2 linked regions of the Homo sapiens genome follow. The protein of the gene in region 2 purifies or fractionates together with the protein of the main gene of each other region. This does not show direct contact. Each region holds a gene or a part of one and is shown on either strand. Other genes may lie near its edges.

Region 1 (7,948 bases), on a different chromosome or scaffold from region 2:
TGTTTCACAAACAAAAGCACAAATCTCCAAGCATCCACTATGGAGACAGGTGAACAGAACAATAGTCATAGATGAATGCTGGAGGACAGTTGCAGGCCAAGCTAACCACGGAGGCTGAAAGAGACATCTTTCTCTACAACTCACTTAATCTCAAGTTAACACCAATGAATGGTTTAACAGATAATTTTCTTAAGCTTTTTATGGAAAAGTTCATACCTACACAAAGTTAGACAAAATAGTTCAATGAAGCCCCACATATACATCACCCAGCTTCACTAATTATCAACTCACAGCAAATCTTGCTTCTTCTATACTCTATTTCATCCCCTCCTGTATTATATTATTTTGATGCAAATCTTAAACACCACATTATTTCATCTGTAAATATTTCAATGTTATTTCTAAAAGGCATCTCTAAAAACACACACTACCATTATAGTTAAAAAAACTAACACAAAATTTTTTACATCACCTAATATTCACTTTAAAACTTTTAGGAAAAAATAGGACAAAATCTTGGGACTTAGAGTTGACATCAAAAACATGATCCATAAAAGAAAAAAAACTGATAAAATGGACTTCATCAAAACATAAAACTTTTGCTCTGCAAAAAGACTCTGTTAAGAGGATAAAAAAACTAAGAAATTGGAAAAAAATACTAGTAACTGCATATCTCCCAAAGGACTCATACATAAAAGAACTCTCAAAACAAGCCATTTAGAACGTAGGCAGGCCGGGTGCGATGGCTCACGCCTTTAATCCCAGCACTTTGGGAGGCCAAGGCGGGCGGATCACCTGACGTCAGGAGTTTGAGACCAGCCATGCCAACATGGAGAAACCCCATCTCTACTAAAAAGACAAAATTGGCTGGGCATGGTGGCGCATGCCTGTAATCCCAGCTACTCGGGAGGCTGAGGCAGGAGAATTGCTTGAACCCAGGAGGCCTCTGCGGTGAGCCGAGACCGCGCCACTGCGCTCCAGCCTGGGCAACAAGGCGAAACTCCATCTCAGAAAAAAAAAAAAAAAAAAAGTGGGCAAAAGATATGAACAAATATTTCATCAAAGAGGACAGATACACAGATGGCAAAGAAGCACATGAAAAGATGTTCAACACCATTAGTCAATGCATTGTTCAAACATCATTGCATCAGAGAAATGTAAATAAAAACCACAATGAGATATCACTACGTCTCTATCAGAATGGCTAAAATTTAAAAAGTGATCACCCCAAATGCTGGTGAGAATGAAGGGAAACTGGATTACTCACACATAGCTGGTGGGAATGTAAAATAGTACAGCCACTCTGGAAAAGAGTATGGCAGTTTCTTAAAAAGAAACTAAACATGGACTTACTACATGACTCAGTAACTGCAGTCTTGGGCATTTATTCCAGAGAAATGAAACTTATGTTCATACAAAAACCTGAACATGAATGTTCATAGTAGCTTTATTCGTAATAGCCAAAAACTGGAAGCAGCTTGGATGTTCTTCAACCCATGGTAAACGGTTAAACAAATTGTGATGTATCCATACCATGGAATTCTATTCAACAATTTTGAAAAACCTGCTATCAATACAGGCGACGCCTTGCATGGATCTTAAGGATAGTATGCTGTGTGAAAAAAAGCCAATCTCCAAAGGCTTGTTTTGAGAGTTCTTTATGTATTTTGTGTATTAGTCCTTTGGGAGATATGCAGTTGCTGGTATTTTTTTCCCACGTCTTGGTAGTTTTTTCATTCTCTTAACAGTCTTTTGCAGAGCAAAAGTTTTTCATTTTGATGAAGTCCATTTTGTCAATTTTTTTCTTTTAGAGATCATGCTTTTGATGTCATCTCTATGTCCAAAGATCTTGTCCTTTTTCTAAAAGTTTTATACTGAATATTTGGTGATATAAAAAATTTCAGGCCGGGTGCAGTGGCTCATGCCTGTAATCCCAATACTTTGGGAGGCTGAGGCGGGTGGATCACCTGAGGTCAGGAGTTTGAGACCAGCCTGGCCAACACGGTGAAACCCTATCTCTACTCAAAATACAAAATCAGCTGGGCGTGGTGGCACATGCCTGTAATCCCAGCTACTCAGGAGGCTGAGGCAGGAGAATCCCTTCAACCTAGGAGACAGAGGTTGCAGTGAGCCAAGATCATGCCACTGTACTCCAGCCTGGGTGACAAAGCGAGACTTCGTGTTAAAAAAAAAAAAAAATTTAGATTCACAGTTGCCAAGAGTTAGGAAGAATGGAGAGGAAGGTGTGAATATAAAGAGATAGGTAACACAACAGATAACCTTGTGGCAATAGAATATTTTTATACCACCCTTTTTTTTTTTTTTAAGAGAGTCTTGCTCTGTTGTCCAGGCTTCAGCGCGGCGGTGTAATCACAGGTCACCACACCTTCAACCTCCTGGGCTCAAGCGATCCTCCTGCCTCAGCCCCACAAGTGGCTGGGACTACAGGAGCAAGCCACCACACCTGGCTAATTATTTTTTAATTTTTTTGTAGAGCAGGGGTTTTGCCGTCTCCCTTTGTTGCCCAGGCTGGTCTCCAACTCTGAGGCTCAACCTATCCTCCCACCTCGGCCTCCCAAAGTGCTGAGATTATAGGCATGAGCCAGCATGCCTGGCCACATTTTCATATCTTAATTGAGGTGGTAGTTACACAAATTAATACATATGATTAAACTGCATAGAACTAAACACACACACACACACGAATATATGTAAAACTGATGAAAGCTGAACAATGTCCGTGGATTTTGCCAATATCAATTTCCTAGTTTTGATATTGTACTATAGTTATATAAGATGTTTTCATTGGGGTAAATGGGGTGAAGGGTACATGGGATCTCTTTGTACTGTTTATTTATTTTTATTTTTTATTTTGTAGAGAAGGGATCTTATATTTTGCCCAGGCTGGTCTCAAACTTCTGGGCTCAAGTGATCCTCCTGCCTCAGCCTCCCAAAGCACTGGGATTACAGGCCTGAGTCACCACGCTTGGCCTGTACTATTTTTGCAATTTCCAATGGATCTATAATTACTTCAAAATAAAAGTATAGGCCAGGCACGGTGGCTCACACCTGTAATCTCAGCACTTTGGGTGGCTGAAGAGGGAGGTTCACTTGAGGCCAGGGGTTCGAGACCACCCTGGGCAACGTCTCTACAAAAAAATAGGAAAATAATTAGCTGCCTGTGGTCCCAGCTCCTGGAGGACAGGAAGCATTGGGGAGGGGGGCTGAGGAGGGAGGATCGCTTGAGCCCAGGAGGGTGGAGGCTGCAGTGAGCTATGATTGTGCCACTGCACTCCAGCCTTGGCAACACAGTGAGACCCTGACTCCAAAAATTTTTTAAAAAAACATTTTAAGTATAAACAAAACTTTCACTAGCCCTACTTTTCTTTCCTTAAGAAAAGCTTCCCAAAAGAACTGTCCACATGCCCCATAACAAATCACAATCGCTATTACTGGTATCCCACTCTACTCCCCCTATCCACCAACACGCAGCAGCCAGAGTCAACTTTTAGAACATCAACATTTAATTATTAGCCTCTTCTTTTTTTCTTTTCTTTTCTTTTTTTTTTTTTTTTTTTTTTTGCGAGACAGAGTCTTGCTCTGTCGCCCAGGCTGGAGTGCAATGGTGCGATCTCAGCTTACTGCAATCTCCGCCTCCCAGGTTCAAGCGATTCTCCTAAGGCTCCGGAGTAGTTGGGATTACAGGCGCCCACCACCACGCCAGGCTAATTTTTTTGTATTTTTAGTAGAGACGGGGTTTCACCATGTTGGTTAGGCTGGTCTCCAACTTCTGACCTCAGGCGATCCGCCCGCCTCGGCCTCCTAAAGCGTAGCCTCTTCTTAAAACCCTTTTAAATAGCTTCCCGTGGCTCTTAGAATAAAAGTCAACGTGTGGTTAAAATAAACTAAAAACCTTGCTGTGATGTAGTCCTTCTGGGTCATTCCACACCATATGTCTTCCACTAAACTTCAGTCACACTCATATGGCCCACCTTCTAGTCGTCAAAATAGCCAAAACCTCTCCAAGCCTTACAGCCTTCACACAAACTGTTTCTTCTACAGAGGACAGAGAAAGACAATGGTTTCGAATGTGACGTCCAAACTATAAATCACAGGACACTGAATTCTGCGGGCTTTCATTAGCATAAGAGCTGCCTCCGACGGGGGCAACACTATGCGGGGTGTGCCAGGAACTGATTTAAGACTGTATTCAGATCTTCCAAGCAACGCCAAAGACTCCAGCTTATAAAGAGCATATTTGATTGCTTATACTGTGTGCTAGGTCCTTTTATCCTTCAAATGACCACCTACAGGAGAGACTAAGGTCCAATTCACAACTGAGCCTTTAAGGAGGTTAAGTAACTAGCCCAGAGTTCAACAGAAAGTGGACGGGTTGTTCAAAGCCAGAGCTACTCCCGACCTCTACTCTATACACTGCCTTTCCTCCGGCCCGTAAATACAACGAATGAACCTGCAGGTTGGTAGCTCCTGGGATCCGAGGTTGGAGTGCCACAGGACCCCAACCTGCTCTCACCCCGGGACAGGGAAATACGAACAGGGGCACAGGTCCACCACCAGGTGCCTCCGCGAGGGGCAGCAGCGCAGGCGGCGGGGAGGACCAGCGGCCACTCACCTGGTGCTGGCGCTGCGGCTACCTCCACACAGCGGTCTTGGCCTCCCAGACGCGAACCCGCACGCCCCAGGGGAGCCACCGGCGAAAAGCCCGCGGGCCCGTCCGCAGGCACCAACCAAATAACGCAGCGCTGGCACCATCCCCTACGCACGCTCCCCTCCCTCAGCGCTCAGAAGAAGCCACTTGACCCTCCACGGCCGAGGACCCGCGCTCTTTAGCCCCGCCCCTCACGCGGGGGCCAATGAAGTGGCGCGCCTTCGCCCCATGTGGGAGAGGCTGCGGTGGCCAATAGGCGCGCGCGTCGGAGGGCGAAGGGCCGGCCAGGGTGCCGCAGACGCGGGGACGCTGGCTCGCTCCCTCCCTCCCTCCCTCCGACGCTGTGAGTAGAGAAGCTAGGCCCCGAGCCGGGCGGGACTAGGGTGGTGGTTGTGTTCTGCCCTCGCCCGTCGCCAACGCTGGGCTGACTGAAAACCTGGCCCTTTGGGTCGCGCGTCTTCGACCTTCACCGCCATGCGGACATGGGGCCGTGGGAGAAACTCTGGGCGGGATTACGGTGAAAATTCTTGTTTGGGCGGGCCCTGCGGCTTCTTTCTTCCGGCTCGCCCTCGGCCCCGCCCCCGCCCCGCCCCCGCTCCAGCTCCAGCCGGGTCCTCGCTCGGCCCCGCACGCGGCCCGCGGTAGACGGAGGGCCTGGGCACCCACCGTCTCCATCCCGGCCCCAGCCCAGTCGAGCGTCCACTAGAAGGGCGCTCCCTGTCCGGCCCTAATCCTCGCTCCTCACGGAGGCTCTTTGTCACAGCGAAGACTGACAGCCCGCAGTCTTCTGGACTTCTTTTATGGGGCTCCTGGCGGTGCTATTCATTCAGTCATTGATTCGTCTTGTAAATATGGAGCGCCTGCTCTGTACTCGACCCGGCACTGGGTACCGGAAGAACCAGACAGCTCGGTTTTTGCCACCATTTATAAGTCTGTGTCCTTTTCTTGAGTACTGAACCGAGATACAGTTTTAAATGTGCTGTGCGGTCTCTGAGCAGCGACTCACCTGTGCAGGTCACTTCACCTGATTCCCTTTATGTAAAAATGAGGGCGATGGGCTGTGTAATCTCTAAAGGACCTTCTAACTCTTTAAAATTGTCACTGTGCCGGTGTTGCTAACACTCATTCTGTATGCTTGATGGCAGTTTTTAATTTTTAGGGTTAGGACAGCTGAACATAACAAATAGAATTATACAGATTTATTACCAGAAGGACTTCGTGTGCCTCTAAGAATCTTGGTTCCAGTCTTTGGTCAGGTAGCTCCAGGAAATCACTTCACCTCTTTGCCTCAGACCCTCCTCAGTGAACTAGGAATGATAGCAGTGTCTCCCTAGTCTTAGGGCCGTTGAGCGGATTACACGAGATAAGGTCAGCAGGTGTTTAGCACAGTGAAGCATTTGCTACGTGATGACATTTATTATGGTTAAAGGGTTTTACCACCAGAACAGTGGTACATAGTTTGCTTTATTTGTTAAAACAATGTAGAATATTGCCTGCTTGTTCCATCACAGATGAAAAAAAGAGATGGTTATTCAACTTTGTGAGGTAATTGTGGATTTCCATGCAATTGTAAGAATAGAGATTCTGTGTACCCTTTACCCAGTCTTCCCAGTGGTAGCATCTTGCAAAACTAGTACCATATCACAACCAGGTAATTGACATTCACACAATCCATTGATCTCATTCAGATTCCTCATTTTGTATTAGTGTTCTCTGTGTATATTTAGTTCTATATGGTTATCAGGTGTGTAGATTCTTGTATCCACCACCACAGTCAAGGTACAGCCCAGGTCCATCACCACAAGGGTCCCTCCAGTTGCCCTTTTATAACCACAACTTACCTTTGCAGCCCCACCCAATCTATTCTCTGTTTCTAAAATTTTGTTATATCAAGAATGTTACATAAATGTAATTATTGTAATTATACAGTATGTAACTTTTATTGACTCTTTTTCATTCAGCATAATCCCTTGAGATATATCCAAACTGTTACATGTATCAGTAGTTCCTTCCTTTTTATTACTGAGTGGTATTCCATAATGTAGATGTACTACAGTATTGATATGGTTTGGCTGTGTCCCCACCCAAATCTCATCTTGAATTGTAACTCACCATTCCCATGTGTTGTGGGAGGAACCAGGTGGGAGGTGATTGAATTATGGAGGCAGGTCCTTCCTGTGCTGTTCTCCAGATAGTGAATGAGCCTCACAAGATGTGATGGTTTTAAAAACGGGAGGTTTCCCTGCACAAGTTCTTTCTTTGCATGCTGCCATCCATGTAAGATGTGACTTGCTCCTCCTTGCCTTCCACCATGATTGTGAGGCCTCCCCAGCCATGTGGAACTGTAAGTCCATTAAACCTCTTTTTCTTCTCGGTCTCGGGTATGTCTTTATCAGCAGTGTGAAAATGGACTAATACAAGTACATTCAACTGTTCACTCATTGAAGGACATTTGAGTTGTTTCTAGTTTTTAGCTATTGTGAATCAAGCAGCTGTGAACATGAGTGTACAGCCTTTTGTGTGAACCTGTTTTTGTTTCTCTAGGATAAGTGCCCAAGAGTACAATTGCTGGGTCATATGGTAAGTGCATGTTTATTTTTTATTTTTATTTTTGAGACAGGGTTATGCTCTGTTGCCCAGGCTGGAGTGCAGTGGTGCAATCTCAACTCACTGCGGCCTCTGCCTCCTGGTCTCAAGCAATTCTCCTGCCTCAGCCTCCTGAGTAGCTGGGACTATAGGCACATGCCACCACGCCCGGCAAACTCTCATATTTTTAGTAGAGATGCGGTTTCGCCATGTTGACCGGGCTGGTCTTGAACTCCTGACCTCAAGTGATCTGCCTGCCTCAGCCTCCCAAAGTGCTGGGATTACAGGTGTGAGCCACTGCACCCAGCCTATTGTATCATTCTTTTTTATTTATTTGCTTATTTATTTTTTTGAGACAGAGTCTCGCTCTGTCACCCAGGCTGGAGTGCAGTGGCATGATCTCAGCTCACTGCAAGCTCTGCCTCCCGGGTTCACACCATTCTCCTGCTTCAGCCTCCTGAGTAGCTGGGACTATAGGCACCTGCCACTATGCCCGGCTAATTTTTTATATTTTTAGTAGAGACAGGGTTTCACCGTGTTAGCCAGGATGGTCTCAATCTCCTGGCCTCGTGATCCACCCGCCTCGGCCTCCCAAAGTGTTGGGATTACAGGCATGAGCCACTGCGCCCAGCCTATTATGTCATTCTTATGCCTTTGCATCCTCATAGCTTAGCTCCCACTTTTGAGTAAGAA
Region 2 (7,015 bases):
AGAGGCTGTGTGACTCCTGAAACCAGATCTGTGTTCTAATCCTCCACGTTTCTAACATCCACCACAGCCACAAGGCAGGCACGTACTGTTACTGAAAATTAGCTTACAAAATGCCTTTCCTATGCCATAACTTCTCCTGTGCATCTTTGCTTTTCTTTGAACTTGGCATTTCCAGCACATCCATATCGCACAAAATGTCAGCTGCAGGTCAGCAGACGTTACGATGGGGACAAAGCGGATGGAAAAAAGAAGCTTAACTGCTTCTCTGCGGCCTAAAATCCCATCATTACGGGGATCATTCTGAATGGAGGGAGCCCAGCGGGTCAGAACCACCCCGGCTGTGGGCCTGCTCCCGCCAAAGTCAGGAGGGGGGTGTTCATTTCTCCAGGGAGCTAGGGCAGCGTTCTCGCTGGGAGATGGTGCTGGCCTAGAAGAGCACAGGGGAACATCACACACCTGGGACAGTTGTGGGGTGGGGAGAGGGGGGAGGGATAGCATTAGGAGATATACCTAATGCTAAATGACGAGTTAATGGGTGCAGCACACCAACATGGCACATGTATACATATGTAACAAACCTGCACGTTGTGCACATGTACCCTAAAACGTGAAGTATAATAATAATAAAATTAAAAAAAAAAAAAAAGAGCACAGAGAGACAGGGCAGAGCGAGGCGGCGGCGCCCAGCTAGATAGAGCGCGCCTCCTGGCTCGGGCCCGGCCCTCACCTTTGTACTGCAGCGAGTCCTCCGTGTAGGCCAGCATGCTGGGGAAGGTGCTGCTGAGAAACAGGCCCAGGCTTGCCGTCCCCACGAACAGGAAGACGACGTTGTAGGAGAAAATAAGCAGCACCAGGAACGTCACCACCACGCCAACCTGTCGCGGCAGAGGTGGAGGCGGTTAGGAATTGCGAAAAGCTGAGCATCGGTGGTGAGGAACCGCCAGGAGTCGGCGTCTCCTGGCTTGGCGTTTCCTCTCTAGCCCAAGGAGCCCAGCTGTGTGACCCGCGCGCCACCCCGTGGACCAGGCGGGAACCGCAGTGTTCCGGGGACCGTTCTGACATCTGGAAGGAAGCGTGGAAAGGAGACCCCCGCCTAGACATCTTCCCACCTAGACATCTCCCCTAACAGCTACGGTACACGCTGCGTAAGCATTTGGGGACTGAGGACTACCTGTCCCCAAGGTCTTATCTGTAACCGCGGGAACTCCACCCAAGCCAATTTCATCAGCTCTCTCTGCCCTGCCAGCCCTGGGGGTAGGAGAGTCTCTGTTTCTTTGTGAGAAGCTGCTTCTCTTCTCCTGAAAGCCAAGAGTGCACAGACAGGAAGCCATCAGATAGCAGGGGAAGAGGGGTGGTGGCAGCAGGGTCCCATCCTCTGGGAATCCTAGCCAGCCACCCAGGGAGAGGGTCAGTGGCTGTGGCAGTCAGCTTGGCACCCTCAGATTTGGCTCAGATTCCCATGGGCAGATGCTAACCTATGGTTGGAGACCCAGAAATCTTTCTTTTCTTTCCTTTTTTTTTTTTTTTTTTTGAGAGACAGGGTCTCACTCTGTTGCCCAAATTGGAGTGCAGTGGTGCAATCTCAGCTCACTGCAGCCTCGACCTACAGGGCTCAAGCGTTCCTCCCACCTCAGCCTCCTGAGTAGCTGGGACCTCAGGCATGTGCCACCACGCCTGCTAATTTTCTGTATTTTTAGTCGAGAAAGGGTTCGCCATGTTGCCCAGGCTGGTCTTGAACTTCTGGGCTCAAGCAATCCATCTGCCTCAGCTTCCCAAACTGTTGGGATTACAGGCATGAGCCCCCACGCCCAGCCAAATCTTTCTAGTTCAGTAAAGGTCTCTGTCATACAGGCATGTTTTTGTTAATATAACCATATTTCTAAGTTCTTTAAACACGTTTTTATGTCTGCATTGAGTCACTTCTGTGCAAGATGTATCTGGGAATAAACCCAGGCAGCACAAGATTTGGGGTCAGAAGACCCAGGTGGAAGTCCCGATGTGTTTTTTACCAGCTGTGGAACCCAGAAGTAGCTGATTGCTCTGATTCTTAACTTCCTAATCTGCAAAATAGGAATAGTTACAAAAGCCACACTAAAGAGTGGTGGTGAAATAATACAGATGAAGGGGCTCTGTAAACTGTGGTGCTTCAGACAAATATGAGTCCTAGTGTTTCTCTGTGGGCTTTTCTTAGACGTCTCAGGAGATAAGGATCTTCTATAGCAGCCTATGGCTTTGAGGTAAAAATCTCCTGGATGAAGACATCTGTTTCTTTAAAAAGTAAGTACAGACTATAGAGCTAGGCAAGAAATCTCATCCAGCTCCCAACCCCTCCACTTCTGGGCATGCAGAAAGGAAAGACTTTCAGGGTTGGGAGCCGATCCTGGGAGAGTTGCTCCAATTGGAAAATCAAAGCCGGTGCTCCTAATCCTTGAGGCCTTTACGCTCCTCTAGCAGCCCTTCCGTCTCTGCCACAGGATCTGTTAGGTGGAAGGTGGTCTCGAGGCTCAGAGGCCTTACCCAGACAGACTTCCTTCCCTGGGGAGGGATCAGCCACAAAACAGTGGCCGAAGGAGAGAAACACATTCCCTTCAGAATGGAAATGGAAAGACAAAAGACTTCTTTCATGCAGTAAAAATATGAAAGTCATAGCATAACTATGGTTCCAAAGGTCATGTCTTTCTTTGGCACAGAACATGGTCCCTGAGATCCATTTGTTCTTGCTTTCCCCTCTGTTCACTCTCTCAATGTTGGGGTGGCCCAGGATTCTCTTCTGGCTCTTCCATGTCCGCAGTGCCCTGCTCCACGTTTCACCTGCCTCTACAGCAGGCATGCTTGTATCTATCCCTCTAGCCATGAGCTGTGTCCAGGACTCCGGACTTGCACCTAAAGCTGCCCCTTGGATATAGTCAGTCCCTGGATGACTAACCATGTGGCCCAAACTAGACTCTTAATTTCCTCTGCCAATCCTACTCCTGCACACATCAAGTGAGGGCATCCCAGTCATGCAGTTGCTCAAGTCCTGTGTCTAAGGTCCTTGATTCCTCCTTTCCTTACCTCCCACACCTGGGTCAGCAACAAGTCCTGTCCACACCATCTCAAAAAACATGTTCGATCCTTGTACTGCTCCAGATCCATCCAGACCACCCCATCCCAGCCACCTCCCTCTTGCGCCTGGACTACAATAACAGACAGTCTGTGTTTGACTCTTGCCAGCTACAGTCTGTTCTTCCACACTGGAGTGCACTTTTAAAATGCAGTGCAAGTGGCTGGAGATGGTGGCTCCTGTCTAGTTCTACCACTTTGGTAGGCTGAGGCAGGAAGGATCGCTTGGGCCCAGGAGTTCAAGACCAGCCTGGGCAACATAGTGAGACCCTGTCTCTCTAAAAAAAACAATAATAAATTTTAAAAATGCAATGCAAGCTATGTTAGATGGAAATGTGAAACATCACGGGGCACCTGTATAAGTGTCGTTTACTTCATAGCATGAATAAATGTATCTGTGAGATGCAAAAAAATAAAAAGAAAAAAGAAAATGCAACGCAGACCTGCTTAAAACCTATTGGCTTCCTGCCCACTTAGAATAAAATTCAAAGCCCACCTTACAAAACCCTGAGGATGTAGCCCCTGTTTACTTCCCCATCCTCATCTTTTTCTGCTCCCGATCCCCCACCCTGCCTACCGTGCTCCCCCCAAGTTAGCCTCCTAGCCCCTAACCCAGGCCTTTGAACACGGGCCTTTGAACTTCAGCCAGGCCTGCTCACCTCCTGCCTTCAGGGGCTGGCACCTTCTTAATATTCAGTGTTCAACTTAGGAGCCTGGGACAGATGCCGGGGTTTGGAAGCCGCCACTCCTGCTCCTCTTCTTCCACCTGGCTACCCCATGTACAAACCACATGCATTTCCAGCCATGCCTCAAAGACCGTCACCCTGAAAATCCCTAAATTTGGGGAAGTTTGAAAGACACCCGAGTCTTATTTTAGCCTTGGTGATAGAAGACTAACCAGGACGAACTATCAGCTCCACCAACTCTCTTCCCACGCAGTGTGGCCCCTGCCTCAGCCAGTGACTCAGTCTGGTACTGAGCCTGCATCCCCACTGCCTACACCCTCACCCTCCATCTGTGCTGGGGCACACTGCCCTCCTCTGGCCGGCCGTAAGCTCCCTGGAAGCAAGAACCTTGTCTTCCAGAACTTGGCGGCCTGCAGTTTGCAGCAGGGCTTTGCACATAGCACAAACATACTAAGTCAGGAAGTAGCTGTTGAGCTCCAGGAGAATGCTGAGAACAGGGTGGCCATTAATTTAACCTAGAGAGGAATACTCGGAAGTAGTCACAGTGAATATGACACAGGCACTTCACATCTACACAGGAGAGGCTTGCTCAGGGCCACTCAGCTGCAGTTCCCAAACAGGGTGCCCACAAAAGCAGCTGGAAAGCTTCCAAAACAACCCAGAGGCCCAGGCTCTTCTCCATACCTCCTAAATTAGAATCTCTGGGGTAGGGGTCCATGATCCTATTTTCTCTTTCTTTTTTTTTTTTTTTTTTTTTGATTTGAAGTCTTGCTCTGTCTCTCAGGCTGGAGGGCAGTGGCACCATTTCAGCTCACTGCAACCTCTGCCTGCTAGGTTCAAGTGATTCTCCTGCCTCAGCCTCCTGAGTAGTTGGGATTACAGGCAGGCGCCACCACGCCCGGCTAATTTTTGTATTTTTAGTAGAGATGGGGTATCACCATGTTGGTCAGGCTGGTCTCGAACTCCTGACCTCATGATCCACCCGCCTCGGCCTCCCAAAGTTCTGGGATTACAGGTGTGAGCCACCGCGCCTGGCCTTTTCATGATCCTATTTTCAAAAAGCAGCTCCAGTGAATCTAATGTATTTGGGAGTCACTTGTTCTAGGACAGTGTTTTCCTGAGCTTGCTGGATGATGTAATTCCCCTGGGGTATTTGTTTAATTTATAGATTGCTATGCCTCCTCCTGGACATTCGGATTCACTCAGTCTGGGTTGGGCCCAGGAACCTGATTTTCCTTTTTAAAACCCAGCACTCCAGGTGAGTGTCTATGGGCAATGCCTAACATATGTGGATGCTTCAGACCTTTATTTTCCCAAACCCAGATTTCCACCCACTCTCCTCTGTCTTAGCAATTGGCCTTGTGTCTGACCTAGACAGGGAAGCCAGGGCTGGCCCCATGTCTGTGCCCTTCCTCTTCTGGAACCTTTCCCCTTTGACATCGTTTCGCCCCAACTCCATGGACAGGGGCCTTCCTCCTTGCTGAGCTTAGAGCCTCCTCCACTCCCGCTCTCCATCCCACCTCCCCTCTGTCAGGGCCTTCCTCACTCGGTTACTCTCTCACAATGGTATTTTCACAGACTCCTCCTCCTAATAGGTGTCCTCCCTTTATCCTCTACTATAAGCAGGCCCATACCACCCTGAGTCCTGCAGAACACAACTCCCTTCAACTCAAAAATATTTACAAAGAGAAATGCAAATTCCTCCACTGCTCATCTCCCTCTCACCCTCAACCTCTTGCGTTTGGGTTTATCACCTACCTCCCATCTACATTGAACTGAAATTTCTTTCTTGGGGGTCAACTGGCACGAGGTCAAATCCAAAGGCCTTTCTTGGGGATCATGATCTTTGTCTCTGAAACTGCAACCTTATGTCCAAACCCGCTCTCTGCTAGAAATTCAACCAAGGAAATGCTTTCTTACCTGGACTTAGTACCCTCATTGGGCTACTTGGAAAGGTAGTGAGTTGCAGTTACTAGAGGTGTTTAAGCAGACAGTGAACCCCTTGGAAGGGATGTTATAGATAGAGGTGGCTCAAGCCTGATGGGAGGTTGGACTAGACAATTTGGCAGAAGTCTGTAATGTGGACCCCTGTGTCATGGATGGTGACCTGGATGGACACACCAAGGCAAGGGTCTTAACCCACTGCTCAGGCCCAGACCTCCTGCCTCCTAGGCAGATCAGTTCCTTGAAGGTCATCCTCCATGTCCTGCCTACTTAAGAATCACCTAGCGCTAGGCAGAGTGGCTTACTCCTGTAATCCCAGCACTTTGGGAGGCCGAGGCGGGTGGATCATTAAGAGGTCAGGAGTTCAAGACCAGCCTGGCCAACGTGGTGAAACCCCATCACCATTAAAAATACAAAAATTAGCCAGGCATGGTGGTAGGCACCTGTCATCCCAGTTACTTGGGAGGCTGAGGCAGGAGAATCACTTGAACCTGGGAGACAGAGGTTGCAGTGAGCTGAGATCACACCACTGTGCTCCATCCTGGGTGACAAAGGGAGACCCTATCTCAAAAAAAAAAAAAAAGAGTCACCTAGGAGAGCTACCAAATGCAAATCCCCAGGCCCCAGCCCAGAGGCAGTGATTCCGACGGTTGTGGGATCCCTGGCCTCCACAGCTTTCCACTGACTGGAGGGCTCTGAGCAGCTGGGCACCAAGGTAAACACAGGAGGACCAGGGCCAGCACTGGCTTTCCTCACGCTCATAGCCAGTTGTTGGCTGGGATGGGCTCCACACACTGCAGCCAGCACCTCCTACAGACCTTTCCTTTTATGTTTTAAGGGTATAAGATCAGCAGCCCAGAGAGGGGAAGGGACTTTTCATGGTCACCCAGGTAGGCTCCACCTCCCAGGCTCCCACCCCTTCCTCGTCATCCTCTCTCTCCTCTCTTCCCTCTACTCCTGAGTTCCCATCCTGCTGGCAGAATGTAGGCCTGGGCAAACGTCCTGGGGTAGGGCCAGGAGGAGGCGGCTTCTCCTGGGTCTCTCAGAAGAGAGAGGAGGCTATTCAGCTGCTTACCACGTTGATGAAAACCATGGTGGCCGGCTTCATTCTTGAGGATATGGGAATGGAGAGGAGCCGGCCCAGTGTGATGAAGCCCCAGAAGAGGCTGGGGAGGTAGCCAGCCACCTTGTGTCCCACAGACAGGGGCTTCTCCACAGCATAGCTGTACACGAAGGCGGAATAGGCACCCTGTGGAGAGACCGGGCGCTGTTGAGCACACCTG

What was found. Proteins that work in one complex are often made in the same cells at the same time.
Region 1: the proteins of SLC60A1 (region 2) and DMAC2L purify together in Homo sapiens (affinity purification with mass spectrometry; 2 studies listed by BioGRID and IntAct, with this or other methods). This does not show direct contact.

Annotation. Positions count from the first base shown.
Region 1 is NC_000014.9:50,307,378-50,315,325, forward strand, and holds the start of DMAC2L (ATP synthase subunit s, mitochondrial isoform a precursor), read left to right. Parts: upstream 1-4,946; 5' UTR 4,947-5,012; exon of another isoform or gene 5,013-6,886; coding exon of another isoform or gene 6,887-7,013; intron 7,014-7,081; exon of another isoform or gene 7,082-7,213; 5' UTR 7,214-7,249; intron 7,250-7,948. Other genes in the region: L2HGDH (L-2-hydroxyglutarate dehydrogenase, mitochondrial), read right to left, coding at 4,634-4,773. UniProt on the Homo sapiens protein: Involved in regulation of mitochondrial membrane ATP synthase. Necessary for H(+) conduction of ATP synthase. Facilitates energy-driven catalysis of ATP synthesis by blocking a proton leak through an alternative proton exit pathway.
Region 2 is NC_000001.11:205,586,000-205,593,014, reverse strand, and holds part of SLC60A1 (major facilitator superfamily domain-containing protein 4A), read right to left. Parts: intron 6,982-7,015; coding exon 6,808-6,981; intron 1,146-6,807; exon of another isoform or gene 876-1,145; coding exon 728-875; intron 1-727.